Linked DNA regions of Homo sapiens. The protein of the gene in region 1 purifies or fractionates together with the protein of each later gene. This does not show direct contact. Each region holds a gene or a part of one and is shown in the gene's direction. Other genes may lie near its edges.

The links.
Region 2: the proteins of PPIL4 (region 1) and DENND2D fractionate together in Homo sapiens (co-fractionation; one large-scale study listed by BioGRID). This does not show direct contact.
Region 3: the proteins of PPIL4 (region 1) and TOX4 purify together in Homo sapiens (affinity purification with mass spectrometry, with the first as the bait; one large-scale study listed by BioGRID). This does not show direct contact.

What each region holds. Positions count from the first base shown.
Region 1 is NC_000006.12:149,528,909-149,532,642, reverse strand, and holds part of PPIL4 (peptidyl-prolyl cis-trans isomerase-like 4), read left to right. Parts: intron 1-3,734. UniProt on the Homo sapiens protein: PPIases accelerate the folding of proteins. It catalyzes the cis-trans isomerization of proline imidic peptide bonds in oligopeptides.
Region 2 is NC_000001.11:111,185,469-111,188,057, reverse strand, and holds the end of DENND2D (DENN domain-containing protein 2D), read left to right. Parts: intron 1-376; coding exon 377-453; 3' UTR 454-2,089; downstream 2,090-2,589. UniProt on the Homo sapiens protein: Guanine nucleotide exchange factor (GEF) which may activate RAB9A and RAB9B. Promotes the exchange of GDP to GTP, converting inactive GDP-bound Rab proteins into their active GTP-bound form.
Region 3 is NC_000014.9:21,490,494-21,494,227, forward strand, and holds part of TOX4 (TOX high mobility group box family member 4), read left to right. Parts: intron 1-1,802; coding exon 1,803-1,883; intron 1,884-2,014; coding exon 2,015-2,764; intron 2,765-3,734. UniProt on the Homo sapiens protein: Transcription factor that modulates cell fate reprogramming from the somatic state to the pluripotent and neuronal fate. In liver, controls the expression of hormone-regulated gluconeogenic genes such as G6PC1 and PCK1.

The sequences.
Region 1 (3,734 bases):
ACAGGATCTCCCTATGTTGGCCAGGCTTAAGTTTATATTACCATCAACTGTCTGAATGAACAAATAGTAAAGGCTGTATAGTTCAAGAAAGCTTTACTGAAATTAAAAAAATTAATTGAAAATACACATTTTAATGAGCACACTGTGTATCTCAGAGTATTGACTCTGAACACCCAACACCAAGACAAATTCTAAGAGAATTACTACACTTGAAAGATATGTTGAACAATTGGGCAGAAAGAATAAGTTACTTATAAGGGAATGAATTTAGATTGTTATCAGACTTTTCCACAGCAACACTTTGGAAGTTTATGCCAGAAGAAAATAGATTAACATACTTTTTAAAACTTTTTGTTTTCAGATAATTTCAAATTTATGGGAAAAAGTACATAGAACTTCTATATACCTTTTACCCACATTCACCAATTTTTAACATTTTGCTACATCTGTTTTATGATTCTCTCTTTTTCTCTCTCTCTGATTATACAAGCACATAAACACACATTTTTTTTCTCGACTATTTGACAGTAAGTTGCCTGTTATTTCCCTTTACCTCTTAATCAGTGTGTATTTCCTAAGAGCAGCAGTATTCAATGTGTATAACAATATGTACGTATTCACAGTGTAGTTACCAAAATCAGAAAATTTAGAAGTGACAGAAATTACAGTTTATAGGGCCGGGCACAGTGGCTCACGCCTGTAATCCCAGCACTTTGGGAGGCCGAGGCGGGTGGATCACGAGGTCAGGAGTTCGAGACCAGCCTGGCCAACATGGTGAAACTCCGTCTCTACTAAAAATACAAAAATTAGCTGGGTATAGAGGCATGCGGCTGTAATCCTAGATACTCAGGAGGCTGAGGCAGGAGAATCGCTTGAACCCAGCAGGCGAAAGTTGCTGTGAGCCGAGATCGCGCCATTGCACTCCGGCCTGGGCAACAGGGCGAGACTCCGTCTCAAAAAAAAGAAAAAAGAAATTACAGTTTATATTCCAATTTTGCCAGTTGTTCTAATAATATCTTTTATAATTGTTTCCTCCTCCAGACTAGAATCCAGCTCGTGACTTATCATCTGTTGCATTTATTTTGTAGAATATTTTCCTTTTTTTTTTTTTGAGACGGAGTTTCTGTTGCCCAGGTTGAAGTGCAATGGCATGATCTCGGCTCACTGCAACCTCCACCTCCCAGGTTCAAGCGATTCAGCTGCCTCAGCTTCCCAAATAGCTGGGATTATAGGTGCCTGCCACCCACGCCTGGCTAATTTTTTTTTTTTTTTTTTTTTTGAGACAGAATCTCGCTCTGTTATCAGGCTGGAGTGCAATGGCACGATCTTGGCTCACTGCAACCTCTGCCTCCCGGGTTCAAGCGATTCTTCTGCCTCAGGCTCCCGAGTAGCTGGGATTACAGGCGCCTGCCACCACATCCAGCTAATTTTTTGTAATTGTAGTAGAGACAGGGTTTCACTGTGTTGCCCAGGCTGGTCTCCAACTCCCGACCTCAGGCGATCCTCCTGCCTTGGCCTCCCAAAGTGCTGGGATTACAGGCATGAGCCACCGTGCCCGGCCAATAGAATATTTTTCAATTTAGGTTTATCTACTCTTTCCTCATGATTAGATTCAGGTTATGCACCCACAGCCGAAATAGTACGTGAGTGATGTTGTGTCCTCAGAGGTCACATCTGGAGGTGTACGATATTCATTGGAAGATGAGTAATTTTGGTCACTTGGTCATGGTAGTCCACTGCCTGGTGTCTCCAATAGACAATCTGTGGCTAGACACTTGGAGATCTTTCAAATGTCTTGTTCCTTGTCAAATTTCCCCCATAAATTTCTCAGCCATTCATGATTCCTGACTGCACCAGTTTTGACTCTGCTAAGTGCAAAGTGGTAATTATGCAAAGTGGTAATTTCCCACCCCCACCACTTTTTCCACAATTACCAACCTGCATTCTACTGTAAGGAAGAGCCCTCCCTTCTTTTTTTTTTTCCGAGATGGAGTCTCGCTCTGTCACCCAGGCTGGAGAGCAATGGCGCAATCTTGGCTCACTGCAACCTCTGCCTCCCAGGTTTAAGCGATTCTCCTGCCTCAGCCTCCTGGGTAGCAGGGATTATAGGTGCCCGCCACCACGCCCAGCTAATTTTTGTATTTTTAGTAGAGACAGGGTTTCACCATGTTGGTCAGGCTTGTCTCAAACTCCTGACCTGGTGATCTGCCTGCCTCGGCCTCCCAAAGTGCTGGGATTACAGGTGTGAGCCACTGTGCCCGCCTGAGCCCTCCCTTCTTAACTGCTTATCTATCCGTTCATTATCCGTGTCTCATGGATTCTTTTTTTGGCTTTGTTTTTAATAGACAATTTGTAGAGCAATTTTAGAATTACAGAAAAACTGAACATAAAGTACAGAGAGTTTCTAAGTACTCCCTCCCTCTTTCCCCCAGTCTTGCATTATTGTGACACATTTGTTAACAATTGATGAGCCAATATTGATACATTATTAATTAAAATCCATGATTTACGTTAGAATTCAAGCTTTGTGTTGTACATTCGGTGGAACTGACAAATGTACGATAGCATATATCTACCCTTACAGGATCATTCAAGGTAGTTTCACTGTCTAAAAAATCCCCTGGGCTCCACCTGTTCATCCCCACCCCCAACACCCACTTCTTGGCAACTACTGATGTTTTTACTGTCTATATAGTTTTGGCATTTTCAAAATGTCATATAGTTGGAATTATAGCGTATGTAGCCTTTTCAGACTGTCTTCTTTCACTTAGCAATATACATTTAAGGTTCCACTGTGCCTTTTTTCTTTCTTCCCTTTCCCTTTCTCCTTTCCCTTTTTCTTTTTCTTTCTTTTCTTTCCCTCCTTTTTTTTTTTTTTTTGAGACGGAGTCTCGCTCTTGTCGTCAGGCTAGAGTACAGTGGCATTATCTCGGCTCACTGCAACCTCTGCCTCCCAGGTTCAAGAGATTCTCCTGCCTCAGCCTCCTGAGTAGCTGGGACTACAGGCACGTGCCACCGCGCCCGGCTAATTATTTTGTATTTTTAGTAGAGACGAGGTTTCACCGTGTTAGCCAGGATGGTCTTGATCTCTTGACCTCGTGATCTGCGCGCCTCAGCCTCCCAAAGTGCTGGGATTACAGCATGAGTCACCCTGCCCGGCCCTTTTTTTAATTTTTTTTAATTTTTTTTTATTTGAGACAGGTTCTCGCTCTGTTGCATGGACAGTGGCACAATAATGGCTCACTGCACCCCGACCTCCAGGGCTCAAGTAATCCTCCTACCTCAGCCTCACAAGTAGCTGGGACCACAGGCGTGTGCCACCATGCCCGGCTAATTTTATTTTTTGTAGAGACAGAGTCTCACTATGTTGCCCGGCCTGGGATTTCATTTCTTTCTTTTTTTTGTTTTTTTTTTTTAGAGAAAGTCTCACTCTTTCACTCAGGCTGGAGTGCAGTGGTGCTGTCATAGCTCACTATAACCTTGAACTGAGGTTGAGCAGTCTTCCTGCCTCAGCCTCTTGAGTAGCTGGGACTATAGGCACACGCCACCACACCTTGGTAATTTTTAAATTTTTTTGTAGAGATGGAGTCTTACCCATGTTGCTCAGGCTGATCCCAAACTCCCAGGTTCAAGTGATCTTCCTGTCTTGGCCTCCCAAAGTGTTGGGATTACAGGCGTGAGCCACCATGCATGGCTGATAGCTCATTTCTTTTAATTGCTAAGTAATGTTTCAT
Region 2 (2,589 bases), on another chromosome or scaffold:
ATACTTCTCTTTAGAAACCCACAAAATAGCTGTAGGTAGACTTTTATTAGTGGAGTTGAAATGACATAACCTGAAACCTAAGAAAATGTCTAATGGGCTGCCATTTTGTGGAAGTTGGTTTACCCATTAGTGAACAGGACTGAGCCCTTTCCTCTGTTTTAGTCTAGAGCTAATTCCTGCTAAGTATCCTCTGTTTATGGGCTCCTTTTTGGACAAAACTGAATGTCTGGATCTCCAGAACCTGTGAGGCCAGAGACATCCTGGCAGGGATGGCAGTATGGGGAGCAGACAGGATATTTCTGATCCTTATTCCTGAGCTCATTATAATCTGCCTGACCAGATCAGATGCCTCTAACACCTGTATTTGAACCCACAGGCTATTTCCAACAGAAAATACTTGAATATGAGGAACAGAAGAAACAGAAGAAACCAAGGGAAAAAACTGTGAAATAAGAGCTGTGGTGAATAAGAATGACTAGAGCTACACACCATTTCTGGACTTCAGCCCCTGCCAGTGTGGCAGGATCAGCAAAACTGTCAGCTCCCAAAATCCATATCCTCACTCTGAGTCTTGGTATCCAGGTATTGCTTCAAACTGGTGTCTGAGATTTGGATCCCTGGTATTGATTTCTCAGGACTTTGGAGGGCTCTGACACCATGCTCACAGAACTGGGCTCAGAGCTCCATTTTTTGCAGAGGTGACACAGGTAGGAAACAGTAGTACATGTGTTGTAGACACTTGGTTAGAAGCTGCTGCAACTGCCCTCTCCCATCATTATAACATCTTCAACACAGAACACACTTTGTGGTCGAAAGGCTCAGCCTCTCTACATGAAGTCTGTGGACATGTAAGGACGAGAGTAAAGAGGAAAATCTTATTTTTATATGTGTCTTTGGCTTTTACTATGGGTAAAAGTATTTTCCTCGTGGAAAATAAGGCAATGAATATGACAATCAAGTGGACTACAAGTGGAAGACCTGGCCATGGGGATATGTTTGGAGTGATAGAATCATGGGGGGCAGCAGCTCTACTTCTTCTAACCGGAAGGGTAAGAGATACTGGTAAAAGCAGCAGCAGCACTGGACACAGGGCATCTAAGTCCTTGGTTTGGAGTCAGGTGTGCTTTCCAGAATCCTGGGAGGAGAGGCTGCTCACTGAAGGGAAGCAGCTTCAGTCTAGAGTAATTTGAGGATAGGAATTTCAGTCAACAGCAGCCTGTGAAGAACACTACATGGCTTCCATACGTAGGTCTGTTTCCCCATCACTTTCAGTTTGCACTAGTCCTTTACCTTCAGTCTTGGACATCCTACCTCCAACTGATCTTTATTTTGAGCAGCACAGTCCAATTCTTTAACTAAAGGTGAAGGGATCGCTGCACTGACGTTCTTCCCCTTTGAGAAAAGAATCGTAATTTTAAGAGTCTGAAGGAGTTTAGTGGTCACCTAGTCTCTCCTCCCTTGATACCTCTACTGATACTTTCTACTCAAGCATTGGGAAGCTTTTTTAGAAGAATCTTATCTTCAAAAATTCTACCTTTTTTAATGTGTGTATTTGTGGCCCTCAGAAGTTCCTAAATTCTATACAAAGAACACAAAAGTTTCTGGAGGGTGGAACCGGGCATACTGAAGTTCAAGCCAATGTAATTTGCTTTTGGGAGTGCAGAGACCTACTGCAGGTGGCAGATGTCCCACTGTCCACACACCGTGCTTAGCTACACTACTATTCTTCACAGCTTCTAGGAATTACATTTTTTTTTGGTAGTTTATGGCAGTGGTGCCTAAATATAGTTGTACCTCCAAAGGTTTCAGAACAGGAACTGGAATCCTGAGAATCTTGTGAAAATATCCTCTTATGCCTCATCACAAATACACCAAATCATCTCTAGTGATAGGACCTGGAAATCTGTACTTTCTTAAAAGGTTCTTCAGGTAAGGTTTGCTGAGGTTTATTACAAATGTACCCTTGATTTGATGCTAATGCTGTATTTAGGGCTGAAGGAAGCACACACTAAATATCTGAGTGCTTTTCAGATTCCATCTATGCTGAAAAAGAATCTAGGAGAATAAACACATTTCAATTAGCCCTTAACATCTTGCTTCAGAACTTTAGCCCACTAAAGCCCAGTAGGGCATAGGAGAGAACACTGCACCAGGATTCAGATCTGGATTCTAATTTTTGTTCTGAAAAATAGCAAGTGACACTGGCATGCCATTTAACCTCTCCGGGCCTCAATTTCCACTATAGATAGTACCTGATGTGTCAGTAAGACAACTGATGTAACTTTGCCAAACAAGTAGAATTATCCTTCCTCCTTTGTCCTGCTCTGTCCTAGCTTTTAATACTTGGTCTGCCCTAACATTTTCCTGTATGTATTTCTTTATCCCAGATATTCGAACAATTGCTAGCAAGGAAAAGTAATGACGGATTTTCATTTCCCAATATAGTCTGGCAAAGAAATGAAAGGTTTACTTCTCCTTGCTAATTCAATCTACATGGTATTGATGGAATCATTAAAAGTGCAAGCAAGCAGCGCTCTGGCTGCCATACAAGGCAGTGTAGCTACTGTTTATTCCTGATTATGGGACAAG
Region 3 (3,734 bases), on another chromosome or scaffold:
TTACAGAAGTACTGCATCTTTACAATAACTCTCAAAAATAGCTACCATTTCCCGCTTTTAAGGTGGAAACTGGAGCCCACTGCCCAGTTAAGGTCATATAACATTTAAGTGGTAAAGTTGAGACACAATCCAGGTTCTTTAACTCTTCCCATGTACTTTCCACTAATAATGTCTCCTATAATTCCTCATGTAGTGTCCTTCTGTTCAATTTTTAGATATTTAACTTTTCTAAGTCTCATTTTTTCCCCCATTTATAAAATTAGGCTATTACTTGATAAGCTGCATGCTGTGGCTAACTCTCAAATCCACTACCAAGTTTGGATTTAGAATTACTTGTTTGTTTGTTTTTGAGATGGAATTTCGCTCCTGTTACCCAGGCTGCAGTGCAGTGGTGCAATCTCAGCTTACTGCAACTTCCACCTCCTGGGTTCAAGTGATTCTCCTGCCTCAGCCTCCCAAGTAGCTGGGATTACCGGCATGTGCCGCCACACCCAGCTAATGTTGTATTTTTAGTAGAGACAGGGTTTCACCGTGTTGGTCAGGCTGGTGCCAAACTCCTGACCTCAGGTGATCCGCCTGCCTTGTCCTCCCAACGTGCTGGGATTACAGGTGTGAGCCACCGCACCTGGCCTATTTTTTTTCTTTCTTTTTCTTTTTTGGATTTAGAGTTTAAAAACTTTTTAGAGCTAGCCCAGATTCAAAGGAGGGGGAAATAGGCTTCAGCTCTTGAAGGGAGAAAGGTCATATGGGAGGAGTTGTTGTGGCCATCTTTGCAAACAATTTACCACATTCCATAAGGGAAAATATACTGGTTAGACACAGTCCCAGGCTAAGACACAGTTTTTGGATTAGGGTTTATTTTGTATTTATTTATTTATTTTTTTGAGACAGAGTCTCACTGTGTCGCCCAGGCTGGAGTGCAGTAGCACAATCTTGGTTGACTGCAAGCTCTATCTCCCAGGTTCACGCCATTCTCCTGCCTCAGCCTCCTGAGTAGCTGGACTATAGGCGCCCATCACCACGCCGGGCTAGTTTTGTTTTTGTTTTTTTTAGTAGAGATCGGGTTTCACCAGGTTAGCCAGGATGGTCTCAATCTCCTGACCTCGTGATCTGGCCACCTTGGCCTCCCAAAGTGCTGGGATTACAGGCGTGAGCCACCGCACCTGGCAGATTAGGGTTTATTTTTGTTACAGAAGTGAGCATGGGTTGATGTTTGCCTTAAATGTAGCTATTCTCGGCCAGGCGTGGTGGCTCACGCCTGTAATCCCAGCACTTTGGGAGGCAGAGGCAGGCGGATCACAAGGTCAGGAGATCGAGACCATCCTGGCTAACACAGCGAAACCCCATCTCTACTAAAAATACAAAAAATTAGCCGGGCGTGGTGGCGGGTGCCTATAGTCCCAGCTACTCAGGAGGCTGAAGCAGGAGAATGGCATGAACCTGGGAGGCAGAGCTTGCAATGAGCCAAGATCACGCCACTGCACTCGAGCCTGGGCGAGAGAGCACGACTCTGTCTCAAAAAAAATTTAAAAAAAATAAAATAAATGTAGCAAAATAAAATAAATGTAGCTATTCTTGCCAGACTCCTGTCGATTGGTTGTCTTTCAGAGGTATGCTCAGTGGAGTGAGTCTGCCATGGAGGTTGTCTTGACTGTTAGCTTTCAGAATTGAATTCACTGATAGAGGTTGTCAGTGATTAGACTAAGATGAATTGTCATTCATTGATAAATAATACAGAACTATCAGTCTTTCCTAAGAGTATGGGGAGTTTTGTTTTTTTTTTTAAAGTCTCTTTTTTGCAGGTATATAAGAGGAAAACTGAGGCTGCCAAGAAAGAGTATCTGAAGGCACTGGCTGCTTACAAAGACAACCAGGAGTGTCAGGTAAGAGGGATAGGATAGAATGAATATTTAAACCAGTAAGAAGTTTTTTGGAAGTGTTTGTTAGCAGTTTTAAGAAGTAAATACCACCAAGTGATTGATTAATTGATAGATTGATTTATGTCTTCTTTTAGGCCACTGTGGAAACAGTGGAATTGGATCCAGCACCACCATCACAAACTCCTTCTCCACCTCCTATGGCTACTGTTGACCCAGCATCTCCAGCACCAGCTTCAATAGAGCCCCCTGCCCTGTCCCCATCCATTGTTGTTAACTCCACCCTTTCATCCTATGTGGCAAACCAGGCATCTTCTGGAGCTGGGGGTCAGCCCAATATCACCAAGTTGATTATTACCAAACAAATGTTGCCCTCTTCTATTACTATGTCTCAAGGAGGGATGGTTACTGTTATCCCAGCCACAGTGGTGACCTCCCGGGGGCTCCAACTAGGCCAAACCAGTACAGCTACTATCCAGCCCAGTCAACAAGCCCAGATTGTCACTCGGTCAGTGTTGCAGGCAGCAGCAGCTGCTGCTGCTGCTGCTTCTATGCAACTGCCTCCACCCCGACTACAGCCCCCTCCATTACAACAGATGCCACAGCCCCCGACTCAGCAGCAAGTTACCATTCTGCAGCAGCCTCCTCCACTCCAGGCCATGCAACAGCCTCCACCTCAGAAAGTTCGAATCAATTTACAGCAACAGCCTCCTCCTCTGCAGATCAAGAGTGTGCCTCTACCCACTTTGAAAATGCAGACTACCTTAGTCCCACCAACTGTGGAAAGTAGTCCTGAGCGGCCTATGAACAACAGCCCTGAGGCCCATACAGTGGAGGCACCTTCTCCTGAGACTATCTGTGAGATGATCACAGATGTAGTTCCTGAGGTGAGCCTTTGTTTTTAAGTCTTTAGTCTAGTGGAAATGTATAAAAATGTTTTTGGTTGACCCAATAACAGTGGGGGTTGCTACTAGCATTTAATGCCCAGCAACCAGGAGCACAAAACATCCTGCAGATGGGAGTTCCTTGCAGCAGTTGACTTCTCTTACCCAAGGTACTCATACTGTTTTTTTTTTGTTTGTTTGTTTTTGAGATGGAGTTTCACTCATTGCCCAGGCTGGAGTGCAATGGTGCGATCTCGGCTCACTGCAACCTCTACCTCCTGGGTTCAAGAGATTCTCCTGCCTCAGCCTCCCGAGTGGCTGGGATTACAGGCATGTGCCACCATGTCCGGCTAATTTTGTATTTTTAGTAGAGACGGTTTCTCCATGTTGGTCAGGCTGGTCTCGAACTCCTGATCTCAGGTGATCTGCCTGCCTCGGCCTCCCAAAGTGCTGGGATTACAGGTGTGAGCCACTGCACCCGCCCTGTTTTGTTTTGTTTTGTTTTGTTTTTCTTGAGACGGAGTCTCGCTCTGTTGCCTGGGCTGGAGTGCAGTGGTGTAATCTTGGCTCACTGCAATCTCCACCTCCTAGTTCAAGTGATTCTCCTGCCTCAGCCTCCCGAGTAGCTGGGATTACAGGCGCCCACCACTACACCCAGCTAATTTTTTGTATTTTTATTAGAGACAGAGTTTCACCATGTTCATTGGGCTGGTCTTGAACTCCTGACCTCGTGATTCGCCCGCTTCGGCCTCCCAGAGTGCAGGGATTACAGGCGTGAGCCACCGTGTGCCCCATAGTGTTTTTAGTGAGATACATTAAGACAGTCTTCTGCCCCAGACCACTCCTTAACTAAGCAGAGGTCACTAGTTCAACTGGACAGGATATAGCCTAAACAGTTATTATTCAGAGTTGTTACCCAAGGATCCTAAACTTTGGACATGCAAAGCTTTTCATTTCTCCTAGGTCTTAAGTT